3 linked regions of the Homo sapiens genome follow. The protein of the gene in region 3 purifies or fractionates together with the protein of the main gene of each other region. This does not show direct contact. Each region holds a gene or a part of one and is shown on either strand. Other genes may lie near its edges.

Evidence for each region.
Region 1: the proteins of MTBP (region 3) and CDK19 purify together in Homo sapiens (affinity purification with western blotting; 2 studies listed by BioGRID and IntAct, with this or other methods). This does not show direct contact.
Region 2: the proteins of MTBP (region 3) and ZEB2 purify together in Homo sapiens (co-immunoprecipitation; one large-scale study listed by IntAct). This does not show direct contact.

What each region holds. Positions count from the first base shown.
Region 1 is NC_000006.12:110,668,944-110,672,598, reverse strand, and holds part of CDK19 (cyclin-dependent kinase 19), read left to right. Parts: intron 1-2,057; coding exon 2,058-2,168; intron 2,169-3,655.
Region 2 is NC_000002.12:144,517,258-144,521,401, reverse strand, and holds the start of ZEB2 (zinc finger E-box-binding homeobox 2), read left to right. Parts: upstream 1-1,282; 5' UTR 1,283-1,463; intron 1,464-1,727; exon of another isoform or gene 1,728-1,788; intron 1,789-3,982; 5' UTR 3,983-4,051; coding exon 4,052-4,124; intron 4,125-4,144. UniProt on the Homo sapiens protein: Transcriptional inhibitor that binds to DNA sequence 5'-CACCT-3' in different promoters. Represses transcription of E-cadherin. Represses expression of MEOX2.
Region 3 is NC_000008.11:120,521,267-120,524,280, forward strand, and holds the end of MTBP (mdm2-binding protein), read left to right. Parts: intron 1-1,387; coding exon 1,388-1,453; intron 1,454-2,031; coding exon 2,032-2,070; 3' UTR 2,071-2,370; downstream 2,371-3,014. UniProt on the Homo sapiens protein: Inhibits cell migration in vitro and suppresses the invasive behavior of tumor cells. May play a role in MDM2-dependent p53/TP53 homeostasis in unstressed cells. Inhibits autoubiquitination of MDM2, thereby enhancing MDM2 stability.

The sequences.
Region 1 (3,655 bases), on a different chromosome or scaffold from region 3:
TAATAAAAGTTGTTACCTCCAGGGAAGCAAGAGGAGTGGTAGTGAGACATTTCAATATATAACCTTGTATATACTTTGATTTTTGAACCATATGAATGTATTATCTAGTCAAAACAAATTTTTTAACACAGGACTTAAAATGAATTTATTCTAGTGGGATCAACAATTGGAAGTCACAGAAAATGTAGTTTTTTAGAAGTGTTGATTAAATATTGCTACTGTGACAACCACTTTCCCAGACAAGTGAGGTCCAGGAATCAGGGATCTGTGCCAGTGTTGGGTGTTTCAAGAGCCTGGTTTAGATGCGGAAGTGGAGTTCTACTTTCCCATCTACTTCAGGCTGCAAAGAGAACATATTTTGCATAGGTAATAAAGGCAAACTCTCTACGTTCATCAATATCAAGGAGTCAGAAAGAAGGAGACAGTCATTGTGCCTGGGGTGAAGTCTCTTGCCACAGTGTAAGTGCTTCAAGGCTGGCCATAGCAATGGGGTCATTAAAAACAGGGTTTGCCAGAGCCAGAGATCCTGAAGTGTTCAAAATGGCAAACTCTCTAGATTTTGGGAGGCCAAGGTGGGCAGATCACTTGAGGTCAGCAGTTTGAGACCAGCCTGGCCAACATGGTAAAACCCTATCTCTACTAAAAATACAAAAATTAGCCGGGCATGGTGGTGCGTACCTGTAATCCCAGCTACTCAGGAGGTTGAGGCAGGAGAATTGCTTGAACCTTGGAGGCGGAGGTTGCAGTGAGCTGAGATTGTGCCATTGCATTCCAGCCTGGGCAACAGAGCAAGACACTGTCTAAAAAAAAAAAGTTACTAAAGTTATTAGAATGGGTAAGCAGTTTATTTTTCTCTGCCTCATTGATCTATTTATATGTCTGTCTTCCTTACCACATTGTGGGAATTGAAGACATGAACTTTAGCTGTAGTGGAAAAAGCATGGACTTTGCAATCAGGCAGATCTATTTAAGTCCAAACCCCTTCTCTTTCTAGCTATTTGACTTTGGTCATGTTATTTTTATCACACTGAGCCTTGGGTTCTGTGTGCATCATAAAATTGTTCTAAAGATTAAGTGAGAGAAAAACATTTGTATATAATCATCTTGCACATATAAAATATTCAAGGGAAGTTTTGTCTTTCCCTTTTTGCATCTTTCACAGAGCTTTACATTTAAAAGGTATTCAAAATATTTATTAAATTGAATATGTTTCTCTTTACCTGTGAAATCTGAACCCTGTTTAAGGACAGCCTGAGGGAGGCATATTTCTAAGGCTTTTACCTTGAGCAATAATGTCATTGTTGCTAAATATTTTATCAAACAGCTGTCTGTTATGCGCAAAGTGCTGTTTCTGCTTGCTGCTCTGGTCTATCTTTCCTACATATCGTCAGAGTCCAGCTTAAAGCTTTTACTTTGTGAAGTCCTATTTCTTTTTTTCTGTTTACAGGACCTGTTCTCAACTTCAGTTTTTATAAGTGGGCATGACAGTCATTCCCTTATACTCACTACTCTTCAAAAAAAAACCCTCAACCACATACTCTAGGGATGGATAAGTACAGGGATTGTTAAATATCTTTCCTTGTTTTGTCGCCTGTTTCTTGAGCACCAATACAGTGCTAGGGTAGATATAAGCAGTATTAATACATGAGTCCTGCCTCCCAAGGAACAGTTTCTTTAGTAAAAAAGATATGCATGTACAAAAATGTAATTAATTATTTAATGATATGATATTACTTTTGTTTGCTGTTTTACATTTTACCATTTAAAATCCTATTTTTAAAAACACATTCCTGCTTGCAGTCTCTGACAAGAAAGAAAGTAAAACAAAACAAAACAGATATACCTAAGCACATAGAAAAAGGATTGGAAAGATATGCACCAAGATATTGACAGAGCTTATCTCTGAATGCCAGTATTTTGGGTGGTATTTTTTTCTTTCATTTTGCTTACCTGGATTCTCTAGATTTTCAGAAATTTCGTTTTGAAGTTATAAGACATTCATCATTTCCCCCTCCTTGCTAACACAACAGTGACCCCTCTCTTTCTTTTGCATTCAGCTTTTGCGAGAATTGAAGCACCCTAATGTGATTGCATTGCAGAAGGTGTTCCTTTCTCACAGTGACAGGAAGGTATGGCTGCTGTTTGATTATGCAGAGCATGACTTGTGGGTAAGTATAATCTCACTGTATTTCTAGGATTGTTTTATATAGGTATGGAGCATATTTATATAAAATACATATTGTTAATGCACAGAAAGGAAAGCTTGCTCTGTTAGCCATATTTCAAAGTCAATATAAACATAAATGTTGATTTTGAAGAATTTAAGCAATAAACTCACATTTTACTGAGAAGATAGTATTTGTAATATTTAGAAATTTTACTTCAGAAAGATTTTAATGAATGGGAGACTATACTTTTTTTGGCCCGGGGGAGACGAACGGGGAAGGGAGTTTTGCTCTTGTTGCCCAGGCTGGAGTGCAGTGGCACGATCTTGGCTCACTGCAACCTCTGCCTCCCAGGTTCAAGCGATTCTCCTGCCTCAGCCTCTTTAGTAGCTGGGATTATAGGCATGCACCACCATGCCTGGCTAATTTTGTATTTTTAGTAGAGACGGGGTTTCTCCATGTTGGTCAGGCTGGTCTCGAACTCCCAACCTCAGGTAATCTGCTCACCTCGGCCTCCCAAAGTGCTGGAATTACAGGCGTGAGCCACCATGCCTGGCGGGAGACTATACTTTTATGCAAGTAATTAATGGCAGTTTACTAATATGTATAGTGAAGATTGCTTTAAGGATGTTTTTATCAACGTATGAAAGAAGCAAAAAATTCTAATTCCTGTCTTTTCAAATTAGGAATCAGAACATTTAAACACTTTATCTGAGGAACTGCTAAAAGTAACAAACTTCAAATCTGGCACTAAGTTAAAATTATGGATAATTAATTTAGCACCACTATGCCTGGCTAATTTTTCAAAAATGTTTTATAGAGACAAGGTCTTGCCACCTTGCACAAGCTGGTCTTGAACTCCTGGGCTCAAGTGATTTTCCTACTTTGGCCTCTCAAACTGTTGAGATTATAGGCATGAGCCATCACACCCAGCCTTTTTTGTTTGTTTGTTTGTTTGAGACAGGGTCTCGCTCTATCACCCAGGCTGGAGTGCAATGGCACAGTTATGGTTCACTGCACCTTTGACCTCCTGGGCTCAAGCGATCCTCCTGCCTCAGCCTTCCAAGTAGCTGGGACCACAGGTGCATGACCACACCTGACTAATAAATTTTGATTTAATATAATGTGGTTTGTCATCTATATAAGTTATAAATCTGTTGAGGAATAACTTTAACAGACTCAGGTCTTAAAGAAACTTTCAGAGTGTATGCTATTATAGCAGATATGGACAAGAATTTCCAGTGTGTTTTTTTTGTTCAATTCTTTTCATGGATATTCACAGACATTGTATTTTCTCCATTTTTCTATATTCCCCTATATGTCAACCAAGGCTTACTGGACAGTGTATGTACTTTACTTTGAACATCAGTGGGGTGATGAAAGAAGATGATGTTGTACATTGGAATAGTCAGATCCTGTAGAACTGTACTGTCCAATACCATATTTCAAAATAAATATAATCATAAATGTTGATTTTAAAGAACTTAAGC
Region 2 (4,144 bases), on a different chromosome or scaffold from region 3:
AACAGCAGAGCATTGGTTAAGAACACTTAAACTTCAAAAAAATTCCCCTGGGAAGTGGGCTCTGAATTGGTTAATAATGTGCAGTACTTGCTAAATTGCTGACTTCCAGATGTGGAAAATATCTTTCTTGTTTAGGACCTATGTAACCTGATTGGATTACGACAGAAGCGTCACGTTGGAAGCTTTTGAGTGATTATTTAATTAACCATACAGTAGAAAGCTGTATTCTCCAGGAAATCCCTTCCATATTTGCATAACCAATCCCTTCAGAGCAAAGGTGGAGTCTTTTCTTTTTAATCTTACTTTAATTGTAATATCAAAAAATATATACTCCAAAACTTAGACCCCATGCCGTTTAATATCATGCTCTCCCTTCCCTGCTAAGTTTCTCTATGGCCTTTCTCGTTTCTCCTCCTGCCTCCCTACACACTCTCCCTTACTTTGTAGTGAGGTCTCCCCGAGGTGTAGAGAGATTCAGAGATCGGCCAACCGAGTGTTCTATTTTAATTTACTTAGAGACCCTTTATTAAAATGCCAAACTACTTTTTAATATTGGGATCCAGTCCAGAAATTCATCATGCACACACCCTAATACACATGCCCTAAGATGCAGCTCCCATGCAGCATTTTTTTTTCTGGCTCTGGTACCTAAAAAGAAAAAAATAACAATAAGAGAAAGGGCAGAGAACTTTGTTCCAGAAGCTGTACTGAGATACCTACACAATTTGATGTGCATCTCAAATCTGGTCATTAGAGATATCTGTATAAGAAGAGACTATCTGGATTGAGGACCCGGGATCTTTCCCTTTAACTTTCGCCCCTTGGAGTTCTCCAGTTCTGTGAATGGTGTGCACCGTTTTCCGCCCTGTACTCTGTAGGATTTAGTGATGAGGATAATGATGCCAAAGGCTTGACGGGCGGGGAGGGGGGGGTGGAGGGGGGGAGAAGGGAGGGAGGGGGGAGGGAGGCGAAGGCGAAAGGGAGGGAGAGGAGGAAGGGAGGGAGGTGGAATTTCATTTCTTCCACTAAAGCGTTTGCGGAGACTTCAAGGTATAATCTATCCCAGATCCTTTCCCAGAGAGAAACTTGGCGATCACGTTTTCACATGATGCTCACGCTCAGGGCGCTTCAATTATCCCTCCCCACAAAGATAGGTGGCGCGTGTTTCAGGGTCTCTCGTCTCTCTCCTACAGAAAAGAAAAAGAAAAAAATGTCATTAGAAGAGGCGTAACACGTCAGTCCGTCCCCAGGTTTGTGTTTCCTGGAGTGGCCGAAAGAGATCAGTTCTAACCTGCTCTGCAGGAATAACGGTCCTGCCTCCCGACACTCTTGGCGAGGTTTTTGTACAGTTTGCTCCGGGAGCTGTTTCTTCGCTTCCACCTTTTTCTCCCCCACACTTCGCGGCTTCTTCATGCTTTTTCTTCTCACCATTTCTGGCCAAAACTACAAACAAGACTTCGCAGGTAGGTTTTTTTTCCTCCCCTTTTCTCTCTTTTTATCCCTTTTTGGTGTGCTCGTCCTCCATCCTCCTTTTCTAATTTTCTCATTTTGAGTGGGGATGTGAGTCTGAAGTGAGAAGGGGTGTCCGTGGGTAGGAATTTCAGGTGGGTTTAGCTCCTTTATGGCAAGCTTTTCTCAAGAGTGGCTTCTTCGCTTTCTCTTACACTCACACTCTCTCTCCTTGCTTTTCTCTCCTTTTTCCCTCCCCCAAATAATTTCCCCTGTACCTGTTCATTCAGGTAACCAAAGGTGTCCTTTGCTATCCAGCCCAGGAAAAGTTTTATTGAGAATTATATGGCTGGAATAAAAACTCATCAAGGGGAGAGGTCCTGCTCTATTTTCGCATCTAGTTCCAATTCATTATATTCAGCAATTAGGACTTGGCAAATACCTGTTAATAATTACAAAACTTGGTCAGTTACAGACCTACAAATTCGGGGGCAAGTCTTTCTCTTAGACATGGCAGTTCATCCTCTCCCACCGAGAAGGCTGTTTTCTAAGCAGAAAGTTGTCTGTTTTTGTCTGCTTAGCGAGTTTCATTTCTTTATTTCATTCTTTGTGTGTGTATGTGTGTGAAGTAACACCTCACTTCTGTGATTATAAATAAAGAAGTGAAAGTCCTCATGGAACTTGAGTCGTTTACCAAAGTGGAGGGGGGGGCACTACAGCTGGGAAGAAAACTGCTGTCAGGATATCAGGGTTTTAAATTAGGATAACTTTTAAAATTGTATTTTTAGTGGCAAAGTAATATAGACATGGATTTAATAGAAGACACATACACACATATATCCCATTCCATACTTTGGCACTGAAAAGTCGAGAGAGAGATAGCAGGAGTTCCCAGGAACAGTGATGAGCCCGGCTAACATGAATGTGTTTATCTCCCACCTACTGATATATTTTACATGCTCCCCCTGTAATGATGAAGGCAAGATTACTAACTCCAGACTTAGGAGTAACAGGCAAAGATAAAGTTTACAGCACAAATGCCCTGTCTCTCTCTCTCACACACACACATGCCCATAAAACTAGCAACTTACTTTATTAAACATGTATTTATATGCAGTCGTGTGTCTCAGGATGAATATAGACAGGCCAGCTGTTTCATCCCAGACACTTGTGTGACCATTTCTTTATTTCAGGATTTCCCCTAACAATTTCAAATCAATAGGACAAGGAAAGAAATGATAAAATATGTCAAACTTAAAAGTCTCCTACTATGTATGCCTAGGTAAATTTAAGGTGCTTTCTAAAATATCCACTTCCCCTTCTCTCTGCCCCCCTCCCTTCACCCCTCTCAGCAAATGTGTGGAAACTGATACTCACTTTCCAGGTTTTCTGCAAAGCTTCTAGCACAGGAGACAATAGGTGTGGGGCGTGGGGACTGAGTGTGCCCGGCAGAGAAAGGGTTAATGGCCCTTGTGTTACAGTTTGCATCTGTTACATCTTTTATAGCCCCCTGTTTAAACTAATCCTCGAGGCACAGCATCTTCCCAACCTCCACCGAGTTTTCAGGATTCTCCTCCTCTCCTGCCTGCCTCCGAGGTCCCCCTTCTCCAAGTTTTGACAGTTTCAACTGAAAAAATGCAGCGCCTCTCTCGATTTTTAGGTACAAAAGTTTCGAAGCCAGAAAGGATACGATCATTTAGTAGAGCTTAAAAGTATTGCCGTAGTGGTTGGACTTTCTCTTTCCTTTCTTAAGGGAAAAAAAAAATTCTACTGGAACTATTTAAGGGAACCAGTGTGGGGGAGCATGTGTGTGAGTGAGGTGGGGGGAAATACTTAAGTAAATATTGTCAAAGTGGCGAGGGGGGGTGGGGTAAAGGACAGTGTCCAAAGAGGCTTATAATTATATTTATCATTGCGGCGTAAAACGGGAAATCTTAATTTGGGGGCGAGGGTGGGGGGAGGAAGAGACAGTGCCTCGATAAACTCCAAAAGGGGAGGGGAGGGGGCGCTGGGCGAGTGGGCTTCCTATAATTACTATTATCAATTTGCCCGAGTGTGCTTCATCCAGGGGCTGTTTCGCGTTGTTTGTTTGTTTGTTTCCTCTGGGAATTGGGGGGTGGGGGGATGAGAAAAGATGAGAACGAAAAGAAAACCTCGCCTCACCCCAAGTTCCCGAGCCGGGGGCTGAGGACTTTTCGAAGGAAAGGGTCCGCCTAGCCCTGAGTCAAGCGGTCTTACTGTACCGCCGTGTGCATTCCCTCATACGGTCAGGAGTTATGACTCATTTTGAAGATGTAATTCTTGTCTCTCTGATCCCCTCGCGGGTGCAACACACCAAACAGTAACAAACACAAAGCGCCTCGGGGCCAAGGCTGGGGGTGGGGGGCGGGGAGGGGGCCGCCGAAGTTTCGCTTTGGCGTTGGGGGGCGCGGATGGGTGCTCGCCGGGGCCCTGGCCCGGCTCCCCTGGGCGGCCCGCGCGCGTTTCAATGGGCGCGGGCGATGCCCACATTGTCGCTGTGTTTGGTTGCTAGATCGAGCCTGCGTGCTGCCGAAGCAGGGCGCCGAGTCCATGCGAACTGCCATCTGATCCGCTCTTATCAATGAAGCAGCCGATCATGGCGGATGGCCCCCGGTGCAAGAGGCGCAAACAAGCCAATCCCAGGAGGAAAAACGGTAAGAAGCAGCCCGAACCA
Region 3 (3,014 bases):
AAAAGCTAACAGGTAGTTAACAGGATAAATAGAATATTGGAAGAAAGATAAATTATAACCATAATACATTAATTAGCACACAATTGAAAGTATTTACATAGATACAATAGTGTAAACACTGCCTATTTACAATCAAAAATTGTGGTACAACTGTTCTTCAAAGGAAGAGAAGGAAGGTTTTGTGTACGAGACCTGAATCCATCCATGACGTTCTCCCTAACATCAGTTCTCCCTAACATCAGTAGTCAGTGTCTAAAAGTGTTTAATCACCAAGTAGCAACATAAGCATAGTAGTTAGAAACATTAAGGTATAAATAAGGGAAAAACCTGAAAGAATTGAAAGTGGCTGCCTTTATGGAGCGTAACTTGGAAGTACAACAGATAACTGCTTCTTATCTTTTTAAATACAATTCCATTTCTTTTACTTTGTAATAATCACTAAATTTTTAAAAGTGAGACATCAGCTTCCTTTTGTATGTCATTCTTCTTTATGATGGAGTCAAATAGCCAAAATGAAGAAAAAATATCTTTTACCTGATAAATAAATACAAACCATATGTTTGTTTCTGGAGTAATGCAGCATTAGTGGATGCTCACGGTGGAGGATGGGAGAGTAATGCAGCATTAGTGGATGCTCACGGTGGAGGGTGGGAGAGTAATGCAGCATTAGTGGATGCTCACGGTGGAGGGTGGGAGAGTAATGCAGCATTAGTGGATGCTCACGGTGGAGGGTGGGAGAGTAATGCAGCATTAGTGGATGCTCACGGTGGAGGATGGGAGAGTAATGCAGCATTAGTGGATGCTCACGGTGGAGGGTGGGAGAGTAATGCAGCATTAGTGGATGCTCACGGTGGAGGGTGGGAGAGTAATGCAGCATTAGTGGATGCTCACGGTGGAGGGTGGGAGAGTAATGCAGCATTAGTGGATGCTCACGGTGGAGGATGGGAGAGTAATGCAGCATTAGTGGATGCTCACGGTGGAGGATGGGAGAGTAATGCAGCATTAGTGGATGCTCACGGTGGAGGATGGGAGAGTAATGCAGCATTAGTGGATGCTCACGGTGGAGGATGGGAGAGTAATGCAGCATTAGTGGATGCTCACGGTGGAGGGTGGAAGTTATTTTAGGTCAGCTCTATTGGGAATAGGAGAGGAGAGTGAGATGGACTTATGTATATGTGTATGTATTTTGGTTAGAGTATTTTGATATTTCAGAATGGAACTAAATTATAATCTAGTACTTAGATTTTTTTTGTTGTTGTAGTCTGTCCCTAATCACATTAATACGTGTAGAATGATTTAGAATAATCTCAAGTGTATTTAATAATAATGAGTTGTTCTTTGTAATTTAATGTGCAGATTGTAAAATGCTGTATTTTATTATGTTTAGGATCTTAAAACTTCAAGGGGTCTATTTGAAGAAATGAAGAAAACAGCAAACAACAATGCTGTACAGGTAAAGAAATTATTCCCAAGAAACTATATTCAATTAAATTGGTATTTTATTTCAGGGTTGCTCTGATGCCATTATATATGCAGCAGTAATCAGTTACTGGTCTTTTTCAACTCTGTCCCTATGAAAACTCTTTAAGAAACTTCATAGGCTTATTTAGGCTGAGTATTTCATAGTATTTAGTAGATTGCTCTGTCAGCAAAAGAGTTTCTAAAGTGACACTAAGAAAGCAAAAGAAAAAATAAATTAGCTGGAAAAACCAATCCATTTTGGTTAGCTGTTTTCAAAGTTTAGTTTAGTTTATTTGATTGACCATTTGAAACATATTTTCATATAAAGGTGAGAAAATGGAGCAGAATCTTCATTTCATCCAGTGAGAACATTATTGTACTCAGTATTGGAAGTCCAACAAAAATGTTCTTCCATTAGAAAATAAAATGTGTATTTAAGTATAAGATTTCAGTATCTTCCTTTTTATTTGAAATTTTCTACCATGTTCTTTTGAAGTTTTTACAATATATTTTTCTATTACTTGTGTTTTCAAGAGAAATCTTCTGTAATCATATTTTTTCTCCCCCTAGGTGATTGACTGGGTATTAGAAAAGACAAGCAAGAAATGATACATAATCATTCTCTTTAAGACAATTATAAATTGGATGGAGCTATTATTCACTACTTCTTTTCTTAGTTTGAAAATTATAAACAAATTTTAAGCTTTATTCAAAGAATAGATGTTATATTTCTAAAGAATTTCATGAATATATATTCTATATTTGTATAGTTTGAGGGATGCTATGTTAATGTATTTTTAATTAGATACATATTTTGTAAAGTGTTACTATATTTTAAAGTTATTTTTATATGTTTTAAAATGTTTACTCTTATTTAATTATTACAATAAACAGAATTTTTTTTTTTTACTTTTTGGATTTCATGTCTTTGTTGTTAGGTGTACTAAGTTAGGCCTGCCTTACATTTCTTAGACTTAAGTAAGATATTGCCAGTGGCTTTTCCCATGTGTTCCAACAACATAGTTTATTGGACTGCTCCCAATTTAGAGCGTATTGGCAAAAAAAATGCAAACAGGCCTCAGCCCTAGAGCCACCATTGTTGGGGCTATTAATGTTCATTTGGTATCAAAAATGAAGAAACAAGATAAATTGTGAAAATAAGACATAATGAAAATGACACTAAGTACAGTCTCCCAGGAAAAAAATTGTCTTTTCCCATGGTAGAAAATTTGGAAAATGCAGAAAATACAAGGAAGAATGAAAAAAAATTACCACATTCCCCCCTACTGTCTAGACATAACTGCTGTATTTTAAAAATATATGTAATTATTTTTAAATACTTTCAAAATTGGAATCATATAATATGTTGTTATGCATATGTGTGTATGTGTGTATTAATTAATAACCTGCTTTTCACATAACAATATGTTGTGAATTTTATGTCATTATTTTAATAACTGCCTAATGCAAATGAACCACAGTTTGTTTAATCACCCATTATTGGACATAAAGATTCTGTTTTTCCCTGTAACACATAACACTTTAATGAATCT